7 separate regions of the Homo sapiens genome follow, and all the other regions are reported to be linked to region 7. The links are microRNA targets in miRTarBase. Many come from high-throughput screens and were not tested one by one. Region 7 holds a microRNA gene; each other region holds the end of a gene's coding sequence.
Evidence for each region. The annotated mature microRNA hsa-miR-548x-5p reads UGCAAAAGUAAUUGCAGUUUUUG and lies in region 7 at 1,961-1,983, opposite strand. An mRNA with a match to its seed (bases 2 to 7 or 8) in the 3' UTR can be bound and repressed. Matches are read on the target gene's strand: a 7mer-m8 pairs with bases 2 to 8, a 7mer-A1 pairs with bases 2 to 7 and ends in A, and an 8mer does both.

Region 1: miRTarBase lists UBXN2A as a target of hsa-miR-548x-5p. Seed matches in the 3' UTR shown: 7mer-A1 at 2,382-2,388 and 7mer-A1 at 2,076-2,082.
Region 2: the mRNA of CREBL2 is a reported target of hsa-miR-548x-5p. Seed matches in the 3' UTR shown: 7mer-A1 at 3,089-3,095 and 7mer-A1 at 1,478-1,484.
Region 3: the mRNA of GNPTAB is a reported target of hsa-miR-548x-5p. Seed matches in the 3' UTR shown: 7mer-m8 at 3,163-3,169 and 7mer-A1 at 3,151-3,157.
Region 4: the mRNA of KIF13A is a reported target of hsa-miR-548x-5p. The part of its 3' UTR that is shown has no 7-base or 8-base seed match.
Region 5: miRTarBase lists CFL2 as a target of hsa-miR-548x-5p. Seed matches in the 3' UTR shown: 7mer-A1 at 2,501-2,507, 7mer-A1 at 2,250-2,256, 7mer-A1 at 2,021-2,027 and 7mer-A1 at 1,559-1,565.
Region 6: miRTarBase lists MED12L as a target of hsa-miR-548x-5p. Seed matches in the 3' UTR shown: 7mer-m8 at 1,976-1,982, 8mer at 2,101-2,108, 7mer-A1 at 2,702-2,708 and 8mer at 2,938-2,945.

The regions. Positions count from the first base shown.
Region 1 is chr2:23,999,477-24,003,545 of GRCh38, reverse strand. UBXN2A (UBX domain protein 2A) reads right to left here. Exons shown (of 7, transcript NM_181713.4): 7 at 1-3,874. The coding sequence ends at 3,679. Among named protein-coding and RNA genes, the nearest start is that of MFSD2B, 8.6 kb to the left of the region's middle.
Region 2 is chr12:12,641,324-12,645,392 of GRCh38, reverse strand. CREBL2 (cAMP responsive element binding protein like 2) reads right to left here. Exons shown (of 4, transcript NM_001310.4): 4 at 285-3,399. The coding sequence ends at 3,395. Among named protein-coding and RNA genes, the nearest start is that of CREBL2, 31 kb to the right of the region's middle. RefSeq lists an enhancer at 882-2,081.
Region 3 is chr12:101,743,607-101,747,662 of GRCh38, forward strand. GNPTAB (N-acetylglucosamine-1-phosphate transferase subunits alpha and beta) reads right to left here. Exons shown (of 21, transcript NM_024312.5): 21 at 1,893-3,635. The coding sequence ends at 3,558. LOC124902997 (a long non-coding RNA gene) reads left to right here and starts at 384. Exons shown (of 2, transcript XR_007063424.1): 1 at 384-423; 2 at 1,182-1,361. RefSeq lists enhancers at 152-241, 362-471.
Region 4 is chr6:17,760,839-17,764,907 of GRCh38, forward strand. It overlaps KIF13A (kinesin family member 13A), which reads right to left. Exons shown (of 39, transcript NM_022113.6): 39 at 2,855-4,069. The coding sequence ends at 3,272. Among named protein-coding and RNA genes, the nearest start is that of NUP153-AS1, 56 kb to the left of the region's middle.
Region 5 is chr14:34,709,478-34,713,533 of GRCh38, forward strand. CFL2 (cofilin 2) reads right to left here. Exons shown (of 4, transcript NM_138638.5): 2 at 3,777-4,056; 3 at 3,583-3,659; 4 at 1-3,500. The coding sequence ends at 3,388. Among named protein-coding and RNA genes, the nearest start is that of CFL2, 3.1 kb to the right of the region's middle.
Region 6 is chr3:151,432,165-151,436,233 of GRCh38, forward strand. It overlaps MED12L (mediator complex subunit 12L), which reads left to right. Exons shown (of 45, transcript NM_001393769.1): 45 at 588-4,069. The coding sequence ends at 640. It overlaps IGSF10 (immunoglobulin superfamily member 10), which reads right to left. Exons shown (of 8, transcript NM_178822.5): 8 at 4,039-4,069. Among named protein-coding and RNA genes, the nearest start is that of IGSF10, 27 kb to the right of the region's middle.
Region 7 is chrX:38,021,989-38,026,057 of GRCh38, forward strand. It overlaps MIR548AJ2 (microRNA 548aj-2), which reads right to left and starts at 1,998; the gene lies at 1,907-1,998. The region is part of intron 1 of SYTL5 (synaptotagmin like 5); the gene reads left to right.

The sequences.
Region 1 (4,069 bases), not on the chromosome of region 7:
GAAGGCTGGGAGCTAGGAAAAGCAGCATTCTCACAATAGACTGCAATCAGAAGATAGATTTTATGTCAGGTCATCTAGTTACATAGATATTTCCCTGTTGTTATTCCTGAGTCCTTAGTAAAAACCTTAATTAAATGTTCCAGCCTTGTCTCGGCTGTGCTATAGGAGGTAAAGCACAAGTTTATGTCATGATTGGTTCAGTGACAAAAGGGAACAGACTCTTTCCAAGAGCAAACTGGGTGACAAGGATAAACTTAGTGGTCTAGCAGATGTGTTTCAGTGGAGTCTCCCACCGTCCATGGTGAAAGCATGCAGGTTTTATTTTCTCAGGGTAAAAGCTTAGGACAGAATTTCCTGAAGAAAGGTACTTCCACCACATACTTAAGAATCACGTGAGATTAAAAATGCAGAGATCTGAGACCCATCACAGATACAGTGAATCAGAATCTTTGTGGTAGGTGGCAGGAATGGCATTTTTGAAAAGCTGCCCCAAATGATTCTGAAACTAAGGCTTCAGAATCATTGTGAACCATCACTTTATATAGATTGGTTCTCAAAGTGTGCCTGAGGGATCCCTGGAGATTCCCAAGACCCATTCAGGGCACTGTGAAGTCAAAACGTTTTTCATAATCATACTAAGGCATTATTTGCTTCTTTTCATTCTTTCACCAGTATACAGAGGTGTTTTCCAGAGTCTACATGATATGTGACTGCACAACAGACTGAATGTAGAAGACATGAGAACCCATCTATCTTCTTTATGACAGAAAGTAATTCCCCCCAAAAAACCGGCCACTTTTCTCACTAAATCGTTTCATGTTTTATAAGTTATTATTGGCTGGGCACAGTGGCTCACGCCTATAATCCTAGCACTTTGGGAGGCCAAGGCGGGCGGATCACCTGAGGTTACGAGTTAGAGGCCAGCCAGGCCAACATGGCGAAACCCCGTCTCTACTAAAAATACAAAAATTAGCCAGGCGTGGTAGTGGGCGCCTATAATCCCAGCTACTCGGGAGGCTGTGGCAGAAGAATCGCTTGAACCCGGGGGGACAAGTTGCAGTGAGCCAAGATCGCGCCATTGCACTCTAGTCTGGGGGAAAGAGCAAAACTCTATCTCAAAAAAAAAAAAGTTATTATTATTACGGCAGGGTCTTACTCTGTTGCCTAAGCTAGAGTGCAGTGGCGCAATCTCGGCTCACTGCAACCTCTGCCTCCTGAGTTCAAGCAATTCTCCTCCCTCAGCCTCCCTAGTAGCTGAGATTACAGGCATGTGCCACCACACCAGGCTAATTTTTGTATTTTTAGTACAGACATGGTTTCACCACATTGACCAGGCTGGTCTCGAACTCCTGACCTCAGGTGATCTGCCCGCTTTAGTGTCCCAAAGTGCTGGGATTACAGGTGTGAGCTACTGCACTAATTTTTGTAATTTTTATAGATAGAGTTTTGCCTTGTTGCCCAGGCTGGTCTCAAACTCCTGGGCTCAAGTGATCCACCTGTCTTGGCCTCCCAAAGTGCTAGGATTACAGGCGTGAGACACCATGTCCAGCCAGAAGTTATTTTTAAATGAATAATTTTTTTTTTTTGAGAAAGAGTCTCGCTCCGTCACCAGGCTGGAGTGCAGGGGCGCAATCTCGGCTCACTGAAACCTCCACCTCCCGGGTTCAAGCCATTCTCCTCCCTCAGCCTCCCACGTAGCTGGGACTACAGGCGCATGCCACCACACCCAGCTAATTTTTTTTGTATTTTTAGTAGAGACGGGGATTCACCATGTTGGACAGGATGGTCTCAATCACTTGACCTTGTGATCCGCCTGCCTCAGCCTCCCAAAGTGCTGGGATTACAGGCGTAAGCCACCGTGCCTGGCCCATAAATAAATATTTTAAAAATTTAATATTTAATATAATAATATATATAGCTCACATAAACAAATGGTCTTGAGATAAAAATGTTTGAGAGTTGCTGTTTCATAGCAGGCATCTCGCACCCTATGAACATTACTGCTGCTATGGACCACTTAGTTCCTTGGCACACTCAATGCATGCTTCATTTTAAATCTGATTCAATAGATCATTTGCAAAAAAAAATGTTAAACTTATTTTCAGGTATGGGGATTTAATCTGACAGTGAAAAATTGAGGTCTAACTGGATTTAGTTAAAGTCTGAGATATAAAGCCTGTTTTTCTTCGTGATATCAAAATGAAATAATCTTTAAATGTATTCACAAGTTGACTCTGATGTATGAAACAGAAAACCAGCTGGGCACGGTGGTTCACACTTGTAATCCCAGCACTTCAGGAGGCCTAGGCAGGCAGATCCCCTGAGGTCGGGAGTTCGAGACCAGCCTGACCAACATGGTGAAATCCCGTGTCTACTAAAAATGCAAAATTAGCCAAGCATGGTGGCGCATGCCTGTAATCCCAGCTACTTGGGAGGCTGAGCAGGAGAATCTCTTGAACCCGGGAGGTGGAGGTTGTGGTGAGCTGAGATTGCGCCACTGCACTCCAGCCTGGGCAACAAGAGCGAAACTCCATCTCAAACAAACGAAAAAGAAACAGAAAACCATACTTTATATGATGCATTTAAAAAATACTAGTAATGTGACACACACCGGCATTATATTCTAAGTGAGTGGTGGCAAATGAATGGCTAATCCCAAATGTTAGCCAAAAACAAATCCATAATTTTTGAAAGAAAATAAAATGGAAAGGGAATAGGCTTTTTAGAAAGATAATTTTCTTTTATTACATTTTTATAAAGTGTAGAAATGTGAGTAGGCAGATTAATCTTGATACTATACTGAGCTACACAATTTTATTCTTTTATTTTTTAAATTAAAAAAATATATAGACAGGGGTCTCACTCTGTTGATCATTCTGGTTTTAAACTCCTGGCTTCAAGTGATCCTCCCATCTCAGCCTCCCAAAGTGCTGGGATTACAGGCATGAGCCATTGCACCCGGCCACAATTATTTATATTTATTTTACTTTATTTTATTTATTTTTGAGAGGGGGTCTTGCTCTGTCGCCAAGCTGGAGTACAGTTGCTCAATCTCAGCTCACTGCAACCTACACTTGCCAGGTTCAAGAGATTCTCCTGCCTCAGCCTCCCGAGTAGCTGGGACTACAGTTGCGCACCGCCACGCCCAGCTAATTTTTGTATTTTTACTAGAGATGGGGTTTCACCATGTTTGCCAGGATGGTCTCAATCTGTTGACCTCGTGATCTGCCTGTCTCGGCCTCCCGAAGTTCTGGGATTACAGGCATGAACCACTGTACCCGGTCGTATTAGCTATTTAAAAACTCAGACAGCTAACATTTAAATAAATCCCTGCTGTCTGGGAATGATGTCTGAATGAATATTGTGAATACATATGCTAATTTATACCATATTAAGATTCTAAACAATACAGCTATTTAATATATCTTGATAACTGGTATTTGAAAATAAGTCTATTTTTCTGGGTAGTCTTTTGGAGAAAGTGCACTGAATATAGTTTCCAGTCATATGCTACTTTCTTAACTTGTACTTATCTAAACATCTTCTCATCAGGAGAGAGTTCAATAGTACTCGAACCAAAAGTCTAGTGAGTCTGACTTCTCCAATCCCCAATTTTGGTTTGCATGTCCACTTACAACCATCATTTCTCTGCAAATTTTCCACTTAGTCTATCAAAAATCAGTGCTCTGAAAGTTCTCTAAAAGATGCAGTTTTTTGGAGTCTCTGAATGATGACAGCATTCTGTAAATCTGCTTCTTCCAGTGTGAGTGTCTCATCTAGCAACCTGAGGACAGGAAGAGCTGTTGCCAGGGAAAACGGAGGACTTCTTTGAGATCCTTGGTATTTTTCAATGAAGTCTTTGATATGGCTTACTCTGTAAAACAGCAAAAACTATTAATATAATTTTAGGAAAATTTGAATTACCTAATTTATAGTAACAACAACTGGTAAAAGTATCTGGATATGTTATTATTAGAGATAGCGTCTTGCTTTGTCACCCAGGATGCAGTGCAGTGGTGCCATCATAATAACTCCTGGGCTCAACTGATCCTCCTGCCTCAGCCTCCCA
Region 2 (4,069 bases), not on the chromosome of region 7:
TAGAAGACAGCCAAGTTACCTAGCAGCCTGAAAGACTACTTTATGTGGATAATTATAGGATGATATTGCCAGTTGAAGTATTAGTTGTTCTTAAAATTAGTCTAATTAATAGAAGGCTATTATTGATAAAAAGGGCCCCCGACTATACCATTCCGAAGATAGACATGATATAGCTAAAAAGACTTGGGAAATGTGATACCTACAGTACCACATATTTAGAGTCCAACTCATTAAATATATTGATCTTTAGTGACTTAAATGCTAACAATAGTCAAACACAGGCATAATGTGAATATTTAAATTTAATGTAGTTCTTCCCTATTTAACAGTTTTCTGTAACTCCTATTTAGCCTACCAATTACCCTGTGAAAGTTATCCTCCCCCCTTTTTTACAGATGAGAAAGCAGGCTGAGAGATCAAATAACTCAAGGTGACTCAGAAAATAATTCAAGGTGACTCCTCCTTTTAAAACTAAATATGTAATGGATAATATGCAACTGATTTCTTGTGAAATATAACATTTATGTTTTTAGATTTTCTTTGCCTTTAACTCAAGCTAAGTCCAGTTTAAACCTGTACTTTTTGTAATTAGCCAAATCAAATGATCATAATTCAAAGATGCTAAAACAGAATGCTACATAGTGATGCTGAGAAATACTGTCAATTAGCCAGCAAACAGTAATCTGAATTTGCGCAGGATGATCATTCTAATTTAGATATAATGGAAAGATTTTAGATAAAATAGAAAACTTTTTAAAGAAATTCAACTATATCCTAAAACTTGACCTGGTCAAACTTATTCCATATTATATTCAGTTGCTCTAATATACAGCAGGTTGATACTAAAATAATGACAGAATTTGGCTGGTCTAAACATACAAATATATTTTCCCCCTTTTCTTTCTTTGGGAAAATAAGAAAAAAAACATTACTCTGTTTACTCAGAAAGCAAGGAGAGCAGCACCTTCTCCTGGACTCCGTGACTGTCAGCCATCTTGTCATCACAAAAAGGTGAGGGGTGCCAGGATTTCACTATGCTGCTCCTTCACTGGAAAGGGAAGGAAATGCTCCAGCTGTTTTAATCAGTGACATTTATTAACATGCTTCAAAAGTGACCAAAGTGTCCAGCCAGCACAATAGCCGAGGCAATCAACGTTCTCTTAGTGTGTGATCTCCTCCAAAACACCAAATAAATAGGTTTAGGAATAACCTCAAATAAATTGTAATTTAACTTCGCCCAAAATTATACATCCTCTACTGCTCTTCCCTGCTCCTGTAAAGATACTAGCGGGAGGGGAGAAAGCTCAAATGACTCTGTAATTTAGAATTACAACCAGAGAAGAAATACTTCAAGCACAATAAAGACGTTCCATTGAAGAGCGACATTCATTCTGGAATGTTTGTTTTGAAAACAACTCTTCTGGGGGAATTCAAAAGGTACTGAACAAAGCAACATAAAGTAAGTTTTGGGTTGTTTTGCAAAATAAAAATATACAATTGAGTGGACCAGATGGCAAAAACATACCAATTACAATCTGAATGCTATATTTAAAACCCTTAAATTCTGAAGGCCTGAATATCAACAAACCTATTTATGTTTATGATCCTAAAAAGACATTAAATATTATTAAACCCCCAACTTCCAAAACATAGAGACCCAGCAAACTGGGCTAGTGGTATCTCAGTACACAGTCACACATGACTAGACTAGACTAGACTAGACTAGACTAGAGATCTGAGTTTGCAACCAAGTACAAGAGGTCTTTAGGAGCTCAGGCTAAGGGAGGCACTTTATTCAAATGCATGGCCTGAGAGAAGAGGGAAAGTACCTTGTAATCTTAAACTATGTGGTCCATCATATATTCTACCTCAAAGACAATCTAGACTACGGTATCTCCTCTTAAACTGCCAGTTCAGAACAAAATATACTTTATTTGGAAGCTAAATATTTGCTTCACTCAAGTGAAGAATAATTTAGCAGCGACAGAGAACACAACTCCTGTTTTAACCATGGGAAAGAGAAGAGAGAGTGGTAAGTATCTCGCTGGGGAAATCAAAAGATTTCTGGGTCTGTCTGGGTGTATCATATTATGAGCTTGATTCTTCAACCGTCACTCCATTTGGTAGTCAGGGAGAAAGTAAGTGTAGCTGCAAGGGGAAATGGAAAGAACTACCCTGCCCTTCTGCACCCCCAGCCAGGCCCACTAGCTGCGGTGCTGTGCACAACTCCAGTTCCAATGCTTCCCTCCACAGTGGAGGCATATCCAGGGCTGAACCAGATGCACGCCCACAGTGTGTTTCTGGCTCAGAGCCTGTCAGGAAATTCATGTCTGGGAAGAAACTAAGTGTTCTGGTGATGGCTACAGTCAGTAGATCTACCAGCAATTTGTCCCTTTTTTTGTTTCAGATTTTAAGGCAGAAACTCAATCTCAGCAGCTAATTTCATCCAATTTTCTTCAGAAACATTCTCCAATTTAGTTGAGTACGCAAGAAAAGTGTGTGAACATTCACTCCTGTCCTCCCCACATACATATATAGACATACAATAAGAAACATACATACATATATACCCTAGATTGTCAATGTATGCTGCTGAAATGCCTGAAAGGTTACTTTTCACTTAAAAATAAAATTTGATGAATTATTCTGCAAGTATGGATTTGGCCCTAGCAAATTTTTATAAATATAGTTTGAGAGGACAGCAACAAAGGTTTTAACTAGAAGCTGTCTTGAGGGTTTTCCTGATAGATATTGTTAATATGTATGTTATTTAAAACAGGCATATCCTTATGGATTATAAAAATAGAAATGTATATATTTGTTAATACATATTCACAGCTTATGCTGGAATGGCTCACAGGAGAAATCATGGTTCATGCAGAGAATAAACATTACTCAAGTAAATAAAAATAAGATTAGGTCCATAAAGGCTGAGAACTTATAGTCAGTAATCAGCTCATTTGGTTTCTCTTTGTAGGGCAATCAAAAACATGAAAGGTGGTGACACATAAAACACACACAGACATACAATTACATGAATTACATGGAAAGAATATAAATTAACCAATAAAGCAATGTGGAGTTAAGGTGCAAAAATACAATCTTCATCGATTTTCTCTACTCCTGTGTTTTCAAGCATCACAACATGTTAAATGTCATGGGTGGCAATACCAACCCAGACAGGTCTGAATGTTTGTAGATTTTCTAAGTGTTGAAAGTTAAAGCAAGATCCTTTGAGATCTACGATCACACATTTTGGTAGAAATTGCAGATTTACAGAGATGACTACTGAGCAGTAGGTAGTAAATGGAGCCAAGAAGTACACTCTTGCCCATCCATCTTCCATGGGAATCAGAATATTGGCTTCAATCACTGACTCATCTTTATATAATCTTCACCCTGAAAAATAAAAGTTACCAATGTAAGAATGTTTTTAGAGTCAATAAAGTTTGATTAATCTGTTTTAAGATGCATAAATTTTTTTTTTCAGTTTAGTATCTTCAGTAAGGCTAATTTTTAAAAATACAGACTAAAAAAAAGCTGATTTGGCTTTTTTCCATTAATTTAATTTAGATGAAGCCAAATGTTTTAATTTTTAAACATTTCAGTAGCTTTTGGGGTAGAAGTGGTTTTTGGTTACGTGGGTGAATTGTATAGTGGTGGAGTCTGATATTTTAGTGCACTTGTCAACCTAGATGAAGACAAATGTTATCTAATAAAAGTTATCAAAAAGCCGATTTCTTCAATTTTGTAAAAAATACTGAAAACATAAGAAGTTTGTTCTAGATGGGCGTGGTAGCTCACACCTGTAATCCTAGCACTTTGGGAGGCCAAGGCGGGTGAATTACCTGAAGTCAGGAGTTCAAGACCAGCCTGGCCAACATGGTGAAACCCTGTCTCTACTAAAAATACAAAAAATTAGCCGGGTGCAGTGCCATACACTTGTAACCCCAGCTACTTGGGAGGCTGAGGCAGGAGAATCGCTTGAACCTGGGAGGCAGAGGTTGCAGTGAGCCAAGATCGTGCCACTGCACTCCAGCCTGGGTGACAGAGCGAGACTTCTTCTCAA
Region 3 (4,056 bases), not on the chromosome of region 7:
TTTTGACGTAAGTAGTGATTACCCTTTAGTTTAAATGCTTAATCTGTTATTATTTGTATACTTCTTGGTATATGTAGAAATAATTTTCAAAATGAACACTTTTGCCAGGCACAGTGGCTCACACCTGTAATCCCAGCACCGTGGAAGGTCGAAGCAGGAGTATTGCTTGAGCCCAGGAGTTCAAGACAGCCTGGATAACAGTAAGACCCTGTCTCTACAAAAATATAAACAAAATTAGTCAGGTGTGGTGGAGCACATCTGTGGTCACAGCTGCTCAGGAAGCTGAGGTGAGAGGACTGCTTGAGCCTGTGAGGTTGACGCTGCAGTCAGCTGAGATCACGCCACTGCTCTCCAGCCTGGGGCAACAGAGTGAGATCGTCTCAAAAGAAACAAACAAACAAAAAACACTTTTGAAGACATAAGGTAGGTTAAAAAAATCCTTTGTAATTAGAAAATGTGTCACTTTTTTAGCTAAGAGCAATATAATCATCTCACCCTAATGACTAGACTAGGAGCCTCACCTCTGGCCTGGACAACAGTCTTTAACACGAATTTTCATCATTACCATCATCACCACTGACATTTAGCAGGCAGGACTATTTGCCAGGCACTGGGCTGCGTGTGTTGCACATGTCATTTCCTCTAATTATCACCATAAGCCTCTGTGGTAGCTACCAGTATTGCCTCCCACATTTTGGCAGAGAAAGCTAAATCACGGCAAGCAGTGTCCAGGATCCAGGACTTGAACTCCCGTAGTCTGACTGCAGAGTGTGCTCTTCACCCACATGTGCCACAGTCCTGGGGAGGCAGCATGGGCTGGTGGGGACAGGAAAGAGGGACAACCCGGGTTCCCACCCTACCTCTTCCTCTAACTGGTTGTAAGACCTTGAGCAAGTCATGTCATCCCCGTGGCCTTGGTGTCCTTGCCGATAAAAAGCAAGGGTTCGTCCAGACAGTTGTTTTGAAACTCTGCCCGAAGGGCCTGGGAGCTGGAGGGAACACCTTGAGAATCAGGCAGGAGAAGCAGCCTTCCTTCTTTTGTATCACAGAATTTTTATCTGTCCAAAATTCATGTTGAAACTTAACTGGCAATTTAAAAGTATTATGAGGTGGGGCTTTCAGAGGGTGATAAGTCATGGGAACAGAGCCCTCATCAATTCAATTAGATGTCTTTATTAAAGGGCTTGACAGAGGCAGTTTGTGCCTTCTTGCCCTTCTGCTCTGTGAGGACACGGCATTCAAGAAGCCATCTTAAAAGCAGAAAGCAGCCCTCACCAGACAACTAAACCTGCTAGCCCCTTGATCTTGGACTCTCGGCCTCCAGAACTGTAAGAAAATGAATTTCTGTTCTTTGTAAATTACCCAGTCTGAGGTATTTTGTTACAGCAGCACAAAAAAACTAAAACACAGAGTGACCTTTTCTATAGGATTTGAACAAATGGTTCTGACCATCTGACTGCTCATCAACTTCTGAGGTTCCTCTGTTCTAATGATTCTACTGAATCACAGAATCATTAGAATGAGTCTATGAATAGCCTATGATTGTATTATCCATCCCATTATCAAGCTCCTAATTAGGTATGGACTATATTCATCTAACCACAGAAATCGTCATTACAGACAAATGTTCATTTCTCTAACTTTTCTAGAATAAATCTCAGCTTTTATAATGATACCCAGATATCCTAAATTTTACCATATGATAAATTCCATTTAGAAACTATTTTCCCCCCATAAAGCAACATTCTTCTGTATAATACTAATCTTTCCTTACTTTCCACTTAATTTTAGTAATGTTCAGCACAGAACCTGATACACAGTAAAGGCACTCAAGTGACTGCTGAATCTGAGTAACAGTAAACTCAATCCTCAAAGATTTAAAAATCAAAGTGTCAGACAAAAATTTAACTTTTTATGAGATTTCAGTTTTTGAAATACACAACTCTTACAGCACAAACACAGTATTTACATTTCAAGTTCTTTGTACAAAAGATGTATGCCATTTTGGAAGAATATTGTTGAGATCATGATCTAAAATACCTGTCAGAGTTACTCATGGAATCTGCTCTTCACAAATCCATTGTATTATGACATAAAATATGGCTAGACGCCAAGGTTTAACCATACATAAAAATACTAATTCTCGGCTGGGTGCACTGGCTTATGCCTGTAATCTCAGCACTTTGGGAGGCAGAGGCAGGTGGATCACCTGAGGTCAGGAGTTCAAGATAAGCCTGACCAATATGGTGGAACCCCCGTCTCTACTAAAAATACAAAAATTAGCAGGGTGTGGTGGCATGCACCTGTAGTCCCAGCTACTCAGAAGGCTGAGACAGAACTGCTTGAACCCGGGAGGCGGAGGTTGCAGTGAGCTGAGATTGCGCCACTGCACTCCAGCCTGGGCAACAGAGAGAGACTCTGTCTCAAAAACAACAACAACAACAACAACAAAAACTAATTCTCAGTGATTGGCAAATGATGGCCTGAGGGTCACATCTGGCTGGTGGGCAGTTTTTGTACAGCTGCAAGCTAAACATGGTTTTTACATTTTTAGAGGGTTGTTTGAAAAAAAACAAACTAAACAACAGCAAGAAGAATGTATGACAAAGACACAGGTGGCCTGCAATAATTTACTAACCAGCCTTTTACAAAGAAAGTTTGCTGGCCTCTGTTCTATCAAAAACCAACTGAGAGAGATAGCTACTGGAATATACCAATGAGTATTAAACAAGACACCACTGTAATGTGCCAGTGCCATCAGCACTACTCATTTCTAAAATGAGGCACTTCTGTTTGAATATGTACATTTCCAAAACATAATTACATCTGGTAAGTAGTACTAACTCTAGCCCTTTGAAATTAGACCTGCACGTGAAATCATAGCATTCTTAGGGGCTGAAGTCAATAATTACAAAGCATTTCAGATGTCAATCATTGAGCTCTTCAGTAGTTAGTGGTTTAAGACCATTTACAGTCTTAAATATTAATAAAACTCATAATTTAGGTATTGTCAATAAGAGGTGATATTGCTGCATTATTTAAATAACATCTATAAAAATAGGTTTAGACATCCCAATTCGTTATACTCAGAAGCAAGAATAACTAGTTAACTTAGTAACTACTTAAAAATGGGAAATGAAAAAAAAAAAGTGCAAAACTTTAGCAAAAGGCTTTGGAATGCAAAGACTGGAGCCTCTTAGCAATCACTCCCAGCTGGCATAGGCTTCTCCTAATAAAGTTAGTCTGCAATGATTGCTGTGGGAAATTAACAGCTGTCTCTTGTCAGTGAGCCTTTTTATAAAAAGGATGACAGGTCCATGAGCAAATTCTTTAAAAGTAAAATCAGTTCAGAGCTGCTCAACACACAAGTTTTCAGTGGGTTGGTTAAATAATTCCTGGTCAGTGGGCTATATTCATGCCACAAAACAGCATGGTACTGGATATTTTCCTTCTTCGGGCCAAACTGCTAAGCATCACATCACAAAGACATCTCTGTGAAGCTGAGTTTTAAAATGCTCAGTAAATGCTGAGGTAGATGGTTTTCAAATGAAGATCTTCTATACTCTGATTCGATTGGGACTAGCTTCTTTGTGTATCCTCCTTCTGGGAAATATCTTCCGCTTAAGTGCAATTAACTAAATGATGAAAGACAGAAAATACATTTTAATTCTCACGTTGATGAAAGAATATAAGTGCATCAAACTTTCTAAGAGCCATATGACCTTAATCATTTCCACAATCTTATACATTAAAAAGACAACAAACAAATCTCCATCATTCCTCTTCCAAAACAAAAACAAATATTAGTTTTGTTTAGCTTTGTAGGGACAGTATGCCTAGATATGTGCCCACAAAGAGACCCAAGAGGATTAAAATTATTTCGGCCCATGCTTCATTTTTCTAAGACCTACAACTACAGATTTTTACACAGCTATTACCAAAGCATATTTATTTTCAAGATGTCCATTTGTCAAGTCTTTCTATTGAAGGAAACTGGCTCTATTTAGCCATAAGACACTGTCTCTGGGTTGATATGATGGCTTATTCCTTCATCTG
Region 4 (4,069 bases), not on the chromosome of region 7:
GAGGGGTGCTTGCTGCTCTCACCGTGAGGTTGTGCCTCCCTGGAATGCAGAGGCTGGTGAGTTCATGCTTCTCATCCCCACCTCCCCACCCCACCCACAGCACCTACTCTCAGCCCAGTCCACACCCATCACAAGAAAGGGGCTCTTCCTGAAGGGACCCACAGGATTGGTTTTATTATGGAATCCAGTGCTGGAATCCACATTGTAAAAGCCCTGAGGTGATGTTTCAAGGAAAAGTAATGACAGCAACAACCAAAGTAAAAATTAAGGAAAAAAAGTGACTTCTGGATGTGCAGTCTAAGTCATTTCAGGGGTTTGAACAAAGTCAAACTTATGGTTCTCAGAAAAAATTTTAAACTGTCAAAACAACTTATTAAAACCAATGTAGCAGATACATTAAATAAAAAAACATTTAAATTTTTGTAGAGACAGAGTCTCGTTATGTTGCCCACGATGGTGTCAAACTCCTGGGTTCATGCGATCTTCCTGCTCTGGTCTCCCCAAAGTGCTAGGACTACGGGCGTGAGCCACTATGCCTGGCCGCCAAAATTTTTTTTTTTTGAGACAAGAGTTTAGCTCCTGTTGCCCAGGCTGGAATGCAATGGCACAATCTCAGCTCACTGCAACTTTCACCTCCCGGGTTCCAGCGATTCTCCTGCCTCAGCCTCCCGAGTAGCTGGGATTATAGTCATGTGCCACCACTGCCGGCTAATTTTGTGTTTTCAGTAGAGACAGGGTTTCTCCATGTTGGTCAGGCTGGTCTCAAACTTGTGACCTCAGGTGATCCGCCCGCCTCAGCCTCCCAAAGTGTTGGGATTACAGGTGTGAGCCACTGCGCTCCGCTAAAAACTCTTTAAAGGAGAAAAATCTCCATAATCCCATCATCTTGATATAACATGTTTGTAAATTTCACTTTAAACCATGATCTTTGGGAGGAACGTACTATTCTGGAAACTTTCCAATCCTTACCTTTTCCTGTTGGGTTCTAAATAATCTAGGCAATGAAAAAAGAAGGGGGTTGTTGCTCCTCTTCCCTCTTCTATGGGCAGTGCTTCCCACAGTATGGCCCTCAGATAACCTGTCTCCTATTACTCTATGGGGATGCGAGGGGATGGGGAGGAAGGAAGGGTTTGTGAATACCTTATTTCCCCTGCTGCACACTGTATAAAGCAAAATCTTAGGGCTGGATGGCAGTGACTCCTGGGAATTTGAATTTTTTAAAAATTTTAATTTTTAAAATTATTTAAACAGAGATAGGATCTTGCTCTGTTGTCCAGACTGGTCTTGAGCTCTTGGGCTCAAGTGATCTTCCCGCCTCAGCCTCCAGAATAGCTGGAACTACAGGTGCAAGCCACTAAGCCCAGGTGAATTTGAATTTTTTTTTTTTTTTTTGAGACGGAGTCTTGCTCTGTTGCCCAGGCTGGAGTGCAGTGGTGCGATCTTGGCTCACTGCAACCTCCGCCTCCTGGGTTCAGGTGATTCTCCTGCCTCAGCCTCCCGAGTAGCTGGGACTACAAGCATGTGCCACCATATCCGGCTAATTTTTGTATTTTTAGTAGAGATGGGGTTTCACCATTTAGCCAGGCTGGTCTCGAACTCCTGACATCTGGCAATCCACCTGCCTCGGCCTTCCAAAATGCTGGGATTACAGGCATGAGCCACCATACTCGGCCATGAATATGAATTTTTAAGAGGCCTGCCACACCCTCCTTGCCCCTAGAGTTTGTAGCACCTTTAGGTTTGAGAAGCAAACCTAATCTTACAGTAAAGAATTAAAGAGTCTTTGACACTGGCCTTCTTGACGAACAAGGGTTGAAAAGCTGATGTATACCAGCTGTGTAGCTTCTGCTTTAATCCAGGTAAAGAAAGTTGAAGACCTAAACAAATGCATGTATTGCTTGCAAGAATGGTGGTGAGTGACTCTATCATTATTCTTATGTCGGGGAAGGAAGTCTTTTTCTTGTCAGAGATGACTGTTTAGGTTTTGGCAGTTCAGTAATGAGTATGCTGTATAAATGACCATACATTGAAATTTTAAGGGCTGTTATGAAAAGCAGGGGCAAAAGCCACATCAATGGAGTAACTTGCTCGCAAAACAAAGGGATAGAGTAGCAGCATGATTATTTTACTTTTACCAAGCCTCTTTCTAGCTCTGTCAGTTCTTTATTTTGCTAAGCCATGACTCTCCCATGCCTTTTACAGCAAGTTGGGGGACCAAACAAATGAATGTGAATGGGAATAAATGGTGGTACTTCAGAGCAGAATGCTCAGAAGCAGAACATCTCTTATTTATGTAATTTGTGATTTTCCTTAGTAATAGTGGCAAAAACTCATTTTGTTCCCGTATGAAAATTAACCAATATTAGTCAGGCACAGTGGCTCATGCCTATAATCCCAACACTTTGGGAGGCCAAGGGGGATGGATCACCTGAGGTCAGAAGTTTGAGACCAGCCTGGCCAACATGGTGAAAATATAAAAAAATTAGCCAGATGTGCTGGCACGTGCCTGTAGTCCCAGCTACACGGGAGGCTGAGGCAGGAGGATCACGTGAGCCAGGGAGGTGGAGGCTGCAATGAGCCAAGATCGTGTCACTGCACTGCAGCCTGGGTGACAGAGTGAGAGCCACACTCCATCTCAAAAAAAAAAAAAAAAAAAAGAAAAAAGAAAATTAACCAGTATTATAAACTGAGTTACTTCCAAAGTCCAAACTTCAACTGCTGCTGGAATTTGCCTATACCGCCCCAAAGCACTTTTTCACCTACGGGCACCAAACGACTGTCTATTTCCAATTCTATGATATATATGTTTTTCTCTCCACACTTTACCATCTCTGAAATTGGGGTGTCTTACAACTGTTGATATGACAGAGTTTAATTGGCAGTATTTTTTCTTAATGATACATAAAATAATGGTTCATATAATAATCAAAGGAATCACAGATTTGATGAAATATGGTAGATGCTACCAGAACACTTTGGGAAAACTGGTAACTAAACATCCCAGGGAATGAATATGAGATTGATCCTTATCCATCTGAACACTTCATTCAACACCAACCCATGTGCCAGGTAAAAAAATCCACTGGTCTTATAATTTCACAATTGCGTTCTAGTTCCCAAAACAGACTTGCTCTCCGACAGAGACAGCTGTGCAGGAAGTGAGCCTGCTTCTCTGTGGGCTCATCTTTGCTGTCACAAACAACTGGATGAATCTTTCCTACCAAGTTGTTGCGGTGAAGGGCCTCTGGGGTTGACATACAGTTAGACATACTCATTGACAGCACAGAACCCAAAAGGCTGCCTCTGGAATTATTACCTGGTCATTCTCTAACTTGGAATGCAGCTGGCTGGGGTGGTGGAGCCCATCGGAGACAGTCTTGCCGCCTGTTTTATTTGGTAGACTCCTCCTACTGGAAAGCTCTCCAGCAGAAGAATCTGTCAAACCATCAAAATCTTTTCCCTCTGACACTCCCATAAATTCTGTGAAAGAATGGTCTTCAAGGATGTTGGTGGTGTGTTCTACCGTCACCTCCCTGGGGCAGAATCCCCTGGCTGGCTGGCTAATTTTGCTGGGGCAGGCATCTAGTTCTGAACATGAGCCAGTCCTGCACAGTGATTTGGAGTTTTTCTCAGGGATGCTCTGGGATGATGGGCTCCCTTTGGCTAAGGCACTGTTTTCCTTGAGTGGCACCACAATTATCTTGTCCTTTACCAAGCCTTTTTCGACTTCTGTCAACTCTTTGTTTGAGGACGGCCTGAAATCATGCACAAGCGATGGTGTGGAGTGCTCGGTGGAGTCTGCATCCTTCGTCTGAATGGCCAGCTGGTCTGAGCTGTCACTAGAAGGGACCACCATGTCAGACAGGGTGGCATTGGAGGCACTGTGGGAAAAGTAGCCACTGGTAATACTGCTGGTGGTAGGGCTACGGGACACTTCTTTCTCCAAGACCCGTGAGTTTGACAGATCTACTTTAGAGGAAAACCATTCCCTGTTCTCCAAGCTGGCATTGTAAACACTGAAGTCAGCAAACTCCACAGGTACATAAGGCTGTGAACTTATTAGCTTCCT
Region 5 (4,056 bases), not on the chromosome of region 7:
AAGCAGTATTTGAGCTTTTGAAGTGGTGGCTCATGCATGCAATCCTAGCACTTTTGGGAGGCGGAGGTCAGAGGACAGCTTGAGCCCAGGAGTTGGAGATCAGCCTAGGCAACATGGCCAAACTCAGTCTCTACAAAAGAGATACAAAAAAAAAAAAAAAAAAAATTAGGCATGGTGGTGCATGCCTGTAGTCCCAGCTACTTGGGAGGCTGAGGTGGGAGGATCATCTGAGCTGGGAAGGTTGAGTTTGAAGTGAGCTGAAATTTTGACACTGCACTCCAGCCTGGGCAACAGAGTGAGACCCTGTCTCAAAAAAAAAAAAAAAAAAAGGCAACATTTACTGGGACCTGCCTGCCCACCTCTAGTAGCTTTAATACTATTCATAAAAAAATGAACATTCACGTTGTTTTGCATCTCCACCTACTATTAAATGTGCAAGCAAAAACAGGACCTATGAAGAGCAAAATGAGACTGTTTTTTCTGAGTGGCAAACCTAAGAGTCTTCTCAACCTCTTGATGATTTACCATTGTTGAGATTATTCCTTAACAAGAAAACACTTTTAAAAGAATTTCCTCCCAAAGCTTATTTGCCAGATTCCATAAATTAGCTGCTACAAATGTTCTGTATCAGAGAAACTCAAACCCAGTAAGAGGCTTCTCTTCCAATGTACGAAAAAGGCACATTTCAATACACAATGCTGGCCACACTATTTTAGATAATGATGGAAAACAACAGCTGATAGCCAGTTTGGGACACATGCCAACTGTTCCCATTTGTCTGAAAATGCTAAAATTAATTGCTGTAACACTCAGTTTTTAAAGAAAATTGTTATTGATAAATGAGAAAGTATTACCAACTAAAATCCTGAAAAACAGAATAAAGATAATGATGCCTCTTTGATCTGAAATACCAGTTTTTAAACTTTTAATGTTCTGAAGTATAAGTAAACACATCTCAACAGCTTTACATATTTTCATATATTTTATTTTTTAAACTCTCATAACTTTGCAAGCTAGCAGTAAAATATTGCCTTCAATATTTTACTAATTAGCACCGTATACCTTTTAAAGCTAACTGGAACATTGATTCATTATAAATGATTGTAAAATAAAATGATCATTTCAAATGCCAAATTAATCTCAAATAACAAGTGAACTATTATTAATTTTATCTCTTTTTTTGGCTCTACGCACAAAGATGTATTTCAAAGATGAACTTAATTATATTAGTATCAGTTTTGTCAATCTAGCAAATCAAAGTATCACAGTTTAAAGCAATATTTAATCTCTGAAATTACTAGAGGCATACAAGAAAGTTAAGGAATCAGCTACAAAAACAAAAGATACTACATAACTGATTTATAGTCCCTTATTTTTTAAAAGAATGAGGAAATAACTCAATGAAAAATTCCATGGTGCCAAGTATCAGTTACACATATGGTTAAGTATACGTCAGTATTCTCTGTTTTGCTTATCAGAGTTTGGCCTTACCAAAAACCATCGAAATGTCCAGGATAACTCACAGGGACAGCTGGAAGCCTGAAATAAAATTGCTCAGTGCAAAAAGATCCCAAACCATTCATATAATTTTAAATGGAAGCCTAGACATTTAATCCCTATTTTTAATGTTCACATCTGAAAAATCTTTCAAAAATATGGAAAAAATCTAATTATACTAAAATTACTTCCACACATTCAAAAAAAATTTTTAAGGGATATTTTCTTTCCTGTTTTCTGCTAAAAGCATTCCTCTGAGCTATGGGGTTAAGTTCTGAGCCACGACTGACTGCTTACTAGCATGCCTGTTTTGCATACCAGTAGAATCAAGTCCAGTTTTGCCATTTGTGGATAACTATGACAAGATACAAAAGCATGTGTTTGCCATAAATAGCCCTGGCTAACAGCAAACCGCTCACACTGAGCAGATCAAATTCTCTATAAGGAGCACAGTCTGGACCATAGCCAAATCCCACTACTAATGTTTAAGACTGCTATTATCAATTCCTATTCCAATTCAATTTGCAAAATATATTCAGAAATAGTAGGTGAAATGACTGTTCCGAAACATCAGAAGTATCATTAAACTTTTAAAGGACATTTTACAAATTATTTTCATTACGACCAAATAAGCAATAAGAGCTTCCTGCTTCTACTATACAACTACTTAGAAATGTAAATGTGAATAAAAAAATAACTATGCTAATTTATCCAGAGAACAAATCAGATATTGAAAAGTATTTATGCCAAAGTGCAAAAAATAATTTCTGATCTTCATATTAACACATAGGAAATAAATACACTAATGTTTATAAAAGTACCATTCTTTAACAATGGTATTTTATATTAGTTGGCCTTAAGATAGAATACTTTTTAAACCAAATAGATCCAACAAATCTGGAAAATATCACACATGAATGCTGTACAAAAAAAATTCTCAAATGACCAGTGCAGAGATTAGTAATAGCTGTTTTTACCCTAGAAGTTGTTTCACATAACATTTTGCAAAATTTCCAAGGAAAACAAGGCAACGTTCTGTAATATGCCACAATTTTTATTGCAACGTGGCCATTTTTGTGAGGGTGGGGAGTTTGATCTCAAAACAATGTTCCATTTAAGGCTCTTTTATACAGAAATTGCCATCATGACTGATATTCAAAATATCTTTAGTGTTGCAGGACTCACATGGTAAACATAAAACTCCTACACTTATTCAGTAGTGTACACTCAATGGAAAACAAAAAGGCATTAATAACAGCTATTTCTTTTAAGAAGATATGCAGGTAACAGGAATGAACACTGAGGTACTAGGATAAGTTGATGACACAGTTAACAAAACTTAATTGGCATTCCTTTTAGGATATTAAACTTATTACAAAAAGTGCTTTTAATGCATAGTGTTATATCCGTGCTGCCATATCACTAAAATAGGCTTGCCAAGGCAGGTGAGGTGTATGAATGCTCAAGCCTCACAGAACTGCAATCAAGTGCCAACTATAAATAATACTGAAAAAAGTTGACCATCTGACCAGTGGATAATACTTTCAAGGCATTCAATTAGCTTATCCTTTGCAGTATTCTAAGCTATTCACATTGACGATCACATACATTGTAGTGCTTGCTGCAAGGGAGGCATATAACCAGTTGTTTTGGCTAAAATATGACAGGAAGGCATTCCTTGGGTTCTATATAAAAGTAACAGTATTCAACAGTCTAATGGCAATCACTGATAGGCTGCTTAAATAAATGATATTTCCTTCATTCATTGTGTTGGAAGGGCCCAGTGGAAAGGGGGAAATACAACAAAAAACCAAAACCTAATACTATTCCAATGGACTGAGCTGGAGAAATGGAAGCTCCTTAAGATCCAGATGGCACTTGACTGTCATTTTATAATGGTTTTCCTTCAAGTGAAACTACTACATTGCCTCCCAATTTCTCTCCAAGTGTCGAACGGTCCTTAATATCATCCAAGCCATTTACTTGCCACTCATGTTTAATACCTAAAAAGAAAAAACATTATCCTATTACTTTATTATAATTAATAAAGAATAATTTCTCTGCCCCAAATATTCAAGTTTGTACCTGTAAATTTCTTTTTAATGGCATCTTTAGAGCTAGCATAAATCATCTTGCTTTTTAAAGGTGCACTTTCAGGAGCCCTACAGAAAAAAAAAAAATTATTGAATCCCATTTATAAGAAAAACAAAGGTAAGACTGACTATGATAATAATAATCCTTGCATTTTAAAAGTACTTTTTTCTTTTGTTTTTACACACCAGAATATAAATACTAGGTCTTCTTTCTTAGACTCTTTTGTTTCGTATGTGGCATCGTACAAAGCATATCGGCAATCATTCAGAGGTAGCAACTTCACAAAAGATGTGTAGGGGTCCTCTACAGTATCACCAATGTCACCCACCAAGATCTGCTTTGCTTCCTCTACAATTATTTGTCTTTTGTCATCGCTTAAACAGAAGAGAACTGCTTTCTTTCTCTTTTTGATCTCCTCTTGTGTAGAAGATTTCCTTACTTTCATATCATTAAAAACTTTGATGA
Region 6 (4,069 bases), not on the chromosome of region 7:
AGCTGTTTCTAAGCCCATGTCATTTTTTGGTATCTACTGACCATTCCTTGTTTCTGTATGCATGTGCAGGCATGCATGTCTACATAGGCACACGCTTGAGTCATCACACACGGACAGTCTTGCACCTGCATATACTCTTGCACAGTTCTGTTGTACATACCTTATGGCTATTTGCAGAAAATTGCCCAGTTCCAATCTAATTTTTTCTTACCAATTATGTGTTAAAGTAGAATTGCTGACTTTCATAAGCATTTTGAGAACTTTCAATGTTTTATGAAACTTTTACTGTATTCCTTTTGAAAGTTAATACCAAGTAGTTTAGTTCAGAGGGAGACACTCTGGATGGGCCAGTAACCTAAATCCTGCGGCCTTGCATTGGCAAGTGTGGACTGTGAATAAAGGTGTCCCCTCTGCAGGGTGGTACTTGAATCCCACCACAAGGGTTTTTCAGGGCAAGGATAGTACTCTCCGGCCATTCTGTTTCCCTGTACCTGCAGCTGGTACTGAGAGCAGTGACAAGAGGGTAGCATCCATCTGTGCAATAGTTTTGTGTCTGTAATTTTGGTTCAATTTATTTTTCTCCTTAGGCAACCAGCCACAGCAAGGAGTGACTCCGTATGGGCATCCTTCACACTTCTGAATCTGCAAGAGGAGAAGACATGACGTTTTATGTTTGCACTGAAAAACAGAAAATCAAATTTAATGCATTAGTCATCTTAAAAATGTCCCTTTTTTTCATTTCTTTGACATTTTACTATATTTTATGCTACATCTCACAAAAAAAAAAAAAGGTGTTTAAACAAAAAGCCAAGGAGAAGTTGTGGTTTGATTTTGTTGAATTCACCTTTAAAGTAGGTTTACAAATGTGAATCATGCAGGCAGGCCTACTCCCGGAAGAGTGTGCTAGCAGACCTTTTGAAATTGGTGCTTTTTTTGAATCTCACATTTCTAGAAAGAATGGATTATGATGGATCTAAGGTATTTATGTATTTCATTCATTAATGATGACGTTGTTTTTTTTTTTTTAATTTTATTTTCCAAACTGTGCTGGACCAAACTACTGATTTGAAAGGCATGTCAGATCTTGACAGAAACATGGCCTGTTTATTCTGCATTCACCTGTGATGGTGAAACGGACATTTATTTGCATCGCTCTAATTTGAAATGTTTGTAATCTCATAAGCACTTTATAAACTTTGTTCTTATTTATGTAGGACTCTTCTTTGCTTTTGTTGTGGTCAAAAGGTGCTGAAACAGATTGTTGCTTCGTACTTAAACTTCTTAAACCAAGAACCTAAACCAAGGTTTCTTTGAGAGCCGCCCTAAGATGTGCGGAAACCTGTTAGAAGTAGCTGTACTCAAATTTGTTTTGAGGCAAGATCATTGATGAGAGTCATTGTGAAGGTACAACATGTAAATCCTAAAGGCCTGAAAGAACTGCAGTGGAATCGTCCAACTATTTATTGCCAGTTTTGGTTCTCCTGAACCTTATGCCACCTTAAGGGGAAAAAAAAATCCAGTAGCTGGCTTGAGATTCCAGTGCTCACACTTGACATGGTTTCCAGAGAATCTGGCCCCAAAGTCCAGAAGGCTCTGGTTTTCATAAAAGGTGTATTTGCTGTTTATTTTGTATGGTAAGTATTTGCTCTTTTGAATTTAATTATTACTGTCAGTGTCAGTCTTGGTTGTGTATTGCATATACTGTATTTATAAATTGGTGCAAAAAGCACAAGTAAATTATACATCAAATTTATTATAAAGAAATAGTAACTATTTTAACTTTGTTCAAGTATGTGGTAATTTGCTCCTATTAGAGTAAAAAAGAAACCAGTAAATTATCAGTTTGTGTAACTTAAGAGTATTCTATATAATATTTTTTTAGATTTAGATGCATAAAATTTTGAATGTGAAAATTGCAGGGCATTTTAAAACATATGTGGGGGATATTTTCCCATGTTCTCTGTTATTTCATTTTCTTTTGCCATATGATTTTACATATAATATAGTCAAGCATACTGTGAATAGACTTGTCTATAATGAGCAGACCATGTAAATCTACTTTTTTTAAAATGTAGCTAGTACAACTTTAGTAGACATTTTCTTTTGCAAATCATTATCTATAAATAATTTATATCTTCCTGGGTGAGTTACTCATTGCAAAGTTTGACTCATGCAAATGACCTCAAATACATGTCAGCTTACTTTGCTGTGGCAACATCCATGTGAACTGCTTTGTACACTGTGAAAATATTTCACTCCAGCCTGCCCATTTTGTGTTTACTCTGGGCTGGAAAAGACTTTGCCAAAACATTAAAAACTATTCTTTTCACTAAATTAATAGTCTATCTGCTTTCAGAAGATGTATCATCTATCTGTACACATTTTTGCTGGTTTTGTATATCAGATTTTTTCCTCTCAAGAAACATACTTAGATAAGCTAATGAAGTTGTTTTCTTCAAAGTAATATATCTATATAATGACTGCATTGGCAAATCAACCGAAATGTGAATGTTGTGCCTAGTGAGTGAGTCATGTTCCATCATTATTTCTTTCCAAATTTCTTTGCCAGTTCAGTTTGAACCATATATTTTGTAGCTCAGCATTGCAAACAACAGTAATACTGTTTTAAGAATGAGTGTTATAATTGCATAGCATTTGTATGCACTTTATACTTTGCAGAGGTGAGTTAAATTATTAATCATTTTGCACATGAAAGCTGTGGGGCATATCTTTTTTCTTTTTTTAGGTGAGGAAGTTATGCTACGACTCTAATTAATTCCACGATTCTATTGAAAGTTGAGGAATGCTGTTTTACCCCTGCGCATTATAAAGAAAATAACTAGAATTACTTTAGTCTTCAGATTTTCTCCCTGTTAATTCTGTATCTTGAGAGGTTTCTTTTTTTTTTTTTTTTTTTTCTTTTCTTGCAAATGCATTCTTTTGCATTAAGATGGTCACAAGGTAAAGCCCTGTGGCAGAACCTGGTACTTTACCTTACCAGAGGAAATTACCTTAGAATAAGATGGAGCGAGACCCCAGCTCCCCTTAAAGACAAGACCTTGAAATCAAATGGAGTCAGCTATACCTATCAATCAATCACAGTTCTTGGATATAAGAAGCCCATAGACTCTCTTGTTTACACTGTAGGCTTTTTCTTAATAGGGTTGCATTTGTCAGTCATTGCATTTACCCTTCTTGGCCTGGAAGTAGAGGAGATCAATGCGTAGCTTTGACCACTTCCAGCCACAGGGTACTAACATCAGACATAAGTTGCAACCAGGTCACATTTTAGGCTGAGATGGGGCTAACTGAAAGTCAGTGTGATGAAAACCCAAGGGCGCTATTCCACATGTCTCAAATGATTGGCAGGGGCTAACTTATTAGTAATTCTCGGTTTTGTGCACTGAGATATCTAAGACCTATGGCATTTTTTTCCCATTTATAAAGCTCCTATAATTCTTAAGTAAGTACTAGGTGAATGTTTGAATAGATGCTGGAGAAATTACACTGGAAAACCCCACCCCTAGATTTAGATAAGATCAATCATTTAATATTCCCCAAATTAATTCAGGTTGAATTAAGCATGTAATATAAATTCAGTGAATTACAAAAACACATTTTGTGTAGGATTGATCAGATTTTAAATACAGTGAAACTTCATTATATATAATAGACCTAGACCCTCCCAAGCATTTTCCCATCCCATAAAGAATTAATGAAATGAAATGCTTATAGAGCAACGATTCCTGCTCAGAAAAATTTCCTTATAAACAGCTCCAAACCAGGGGTGCCTGAGCTAGATTTTAAAGTTATAAAGAAGTTTCATTGTATTTTTAAAACCTTTTTAATGGGTGTATTTGGACAAAAATAACCCCCTTTTCACATTTTATGATGTGCAGGTATTACATTGCTTTTTACATGTGGAAAAGTGAGCCTGCATTTATTTTTAAATGCAGTTATTAAAACATTTTTGTATTCCCCATCAATGAAAATTTTCAGTGTGAACAAATGGTGAATCATAAGACAGTTCAGTGCTTATTTTCTGTAGGTTTTAGCAAAAAAATTTATA
Region 7 (4,069 bases):
TCAACCTGGATAGAATAGTATTTTTGCAAAATACAATTTAAGTAAATTAGCAGATAAATGAGACATGAAATACATAAACATTCAAGTACAAATTTTCATCAGATTCAACAGATTTAAAATTACTCTGTCAAATTACTATAAAAATTTCTAAATGCTTATTCTTAATTTCTTTACTTATATAATTGCAAACCAGTAAGTTTACAGACCTGCACTGGTTTGCAACCCAAACTTTGAATAAAGCTGTATTAGCCTATCCCAACTGATACAGTGTTACTGTAAGAGAAGTATGAAAATGTATTGGATAGATACTATGAGTTTCCAATTGCTGCTGTAGCCAATCACCACAAACATATTGTCTTAAAACAATACAATGTATTATCTTACAGTTCTGAAGGTTAAAAGTCCAAAATGAGTCTTGGGAGACTAAAATCATGGTGTTAGCAGGGTTGCATTTCTTCTGGAGCCTGCAGGAGAATCTGTTTCCTTGTCTTTTCCAGCTTCTAGAGGCCATCTGCATTCCTTGGCTTGTGGCTGTTCCTCCAACTTCAAAGCCCATCACCTCAGCCTCTGCTTATGTCGTCACACCTGCTTTTCTGACTTTAACTCTACTACCTCCCTCTTGTAAGGATCATTGTGATTACATTGGGATCACCCATCTAATCCAGGCTAATCTCTTTATCTCAAGACCTTTCACGTAATCACATCTGCAAAGTTTTGCCATCTAAGGTAACATATTCACAGGTTCTGGGGATAAGGATGTGGACTTCTCTGGGAGCCATTATTCAGTTTATCATAGATAGCTAAGCTAAACTAGGAGTCAGCCATTTAAGTAGATCCCTGTGGATACTTAGGAATTAGGAGATGGAGAAATGGGGGAAGTATCCCAGGCAGAGTCTTACAAATAGGAAGATCTGGAGGTGAGGAAGATTATGGCTTTTTTAGAGGAATGAACTTTTGAGTGTGGTTAGAGGATAGATACGAGAGAGAGAGATCAGCAAGGGACAAATCATGAAGGGTTTTGTAAACCATATTAAACAACTTGAACTCTTAAAGAGCAAAGGGAAGACATCAAAGGGTATTCAGTATAAAAGCAACAATTATCAATTTGTATTTTGGAATTGCATATAGAAGAGCCAGATTGGAGGCACAAAACTATGATGCTGATGAACCACGGTGGTGTCACCTAATTCACAGCATGTCTGAAACCCAAATCCATTATTTCCCACAAAAGCCAGCACATTCTCCATCTTCCCTATTGTTTTCTTCTAGGATTCAATTCTTAACATTATTTTTAGCCTCTTTCTTTCTTTGGCTTCTTACTCTAGTCAGTCACCACACCTTATTGGTTCTTGAAAATTTTTTAAAGACATAATATATGGTTACATGAATACATCCAAAATAATAAACAATATGGAAATAAGTCCCTTTTCATCCCTTCTCTGACCCCTAACAATCCAACTCTCATCTTCATATGCAACCTGATTCATTATCAATATGTATTATCCTGTGCCTTTTATTATGCATTTACATTTATTATGTACATGCATATATCTACTGCATTGTTTTAAAAGCATTTGCATTAAAAAGCATAATTATCTTGTCTATTTTCAGCTCGCAATATAACTTAGATATTTTCCATGTCAATATATTTATTTTAAATGCCTCATTTTAAAATTGAACATCGGTATTGCTCTCTTTTCCAGCTTCGAGAGCTTCTAACTCTAATAGATTCTAACAGTTTCTAACTTTAGACTATTACAAACTTTATCTTATAACTTATTTTTCAAATCTTTCTCTTTTGAAATTTTTATTAAGGCTTTCTCTTAGCCAGCATTTTTAAAGGTAGAAGTAGTCTTCTCTTTAAAAATATCAAAATACACAATGCCAAGAAAATAAACAGTGATCTTAAATATTAGGTTGGTGTAAAAGTAATTGCAGTTTTTACCATTAAAAGTAATAGCAAAAACTGCAATTACTTTTGCACCAACCTAATACCTTTTTCCAAACTGAGAGCTCTGTGAAAATTCACAGTGGACATTAAAGACTCTGAGAAGTTCTGTAGAAAAAAAAATATTTAACTTGGTTTAACTCTACATATCCAAATTTTTTGTTGAACTACATCACTTGATATGGTTTGGCTGTGTCCCCACCCTAATCTCTTGAATTGTAGCTCCCACAATCCCCACGTGTTGTGGGAGGGACCTGGTGGGAGGTAATTGAATCATGGAATCATGGGGACGGGTTTTCCCATACTGTTCTGGTGATAGTGAATAAGTCTCACGAGATATGATGGTTTAATAAAGGGCAGTTACCCTGCACTCGCTCTTTTGCCTGCCACCATGTAAGACGTGCCTTTGTTCCTCCTTTGCCTTCCACCATGATTGTGAGGACCCCCACCCCAGCCATATGGAAATGTGAGTCCATTAAAGCTCTTTTTTTTTAAATAAATTACCCAGTTTCAGGTATTTCTTCATAGCAGTATGAAAATGGACTAATACAGCACTGTTAACAATTCCATATAATATCTAATAACATCTCATGGGATACTGTTGTTCCATGAAGTCACTGTGTGGCCTCAAATGTAGTGGTTACAAGCAGGGTCCCTGAAACCAAACTATTCTGAATTACTTACCAGTTGACCTTGGGCAAGTTACTTAACATCTCTGTGCCTCAGTTTTCTCATCTATAAAATAGGAATAATAGCAATTTGTTTCATTAGGAAGTCATAAGGATTAGTTGAATAAGTGTTAGTGGTTATTATTTGGAGCATTCTGAGGATACTGCTCTTGAAGTATTGGTATGAAGTTGATGGCACTGTTAGCCTCTCTACTGTTATTTGAAGAATCCATATCATTGTGAAATTAAAAAAAAAATCTTGACTATGGCACTCCCATATAATGTACCACACAGAATTGCCCGTGTGAGAAGAAACAGCTCTGTTGCAAAGAAATTCCTGTAATTCCATAGCATCTCTCTTTGAGTCATTCAGTTTGGGGTTCGTTGTAAAAGTACTACTTTTTTCTCTATCCACAGCATGACAGTTCTTACCTTTTGACAGTCTTGTGGACTGCTGTGCTTGTGGTAATCCAATCACAGCTGCTTTGCAGGATGACTGCTCCTCTATTTGAAAGGCATCCTCAAGGGTATTTTGCGTATGTGATTTAGCTTGTATTCTAAGCATCCTAAACATCTCTGTAAGTGTGCTGAAAATTCATCTAATTTGTATTGTCACATGGTGACAGTCAAACAGGAAATTAACTTTATTTCTATTAATTTCATCCTAAGAGCACTCTCAGAAACATTCTATATTTAAAGCTGCATTTCAAGTACACAGTAATGAGATATATTCAGATATACCCTTTCCTTTGATTCAAATATCGGCCCCTATTATTTTTAGGTGTGTGTTACTCAAAATAGATGCTTTTTAAACTTATGTCCCTTTGTGATGCTATGAGAGTATTTGACTACCACATCTTTTTGATAATCAGAAGTTAATGACTTGTCCAAAGTTATCTATGCTGAAAGGCAATAGAATGACATACAAAGCATCTTGCCATCTTTCTAAACAGCTTAGCATAGTTCAACAAAGTTACTGGCCACAGAGGGAAAAATCTACATCTATATTTAAAGAGAGAGATCTGTTTAAGTTAGGAATTGAACAATAAAAGAAAAATGAATTTCACCCTCCTAATCTGACTAGTGTTTACTAGCCCCATTTAACTAAAAGAATGAGGATCAATTACTCATTTTTTTCTCTACTTGATTAAAATGTGTAATGGGTAAGGGATTCTCCAGGTGAGGTATGAAATCGCTGAAAAGAGACACACAGTGATGATATATCCTCAGGTGAAGTCATTGCAGTCCAGATGCTGGTCTTCAGTGCAAAGGCTGAAAAATTTGATTTGGTTAGCACACAGCAAACAGATCTGACATGGGTTCAAACTAAACCAAATATGGAGAACTCCATAGACAGGACCAGAACATTCACTCCTGAAGGGAGAGCTCTATGGGAAGCCAACTTATAATCAAAAGTGTCTGGAAGGAAGTGAGATTGAGCAAGGGTAATTAG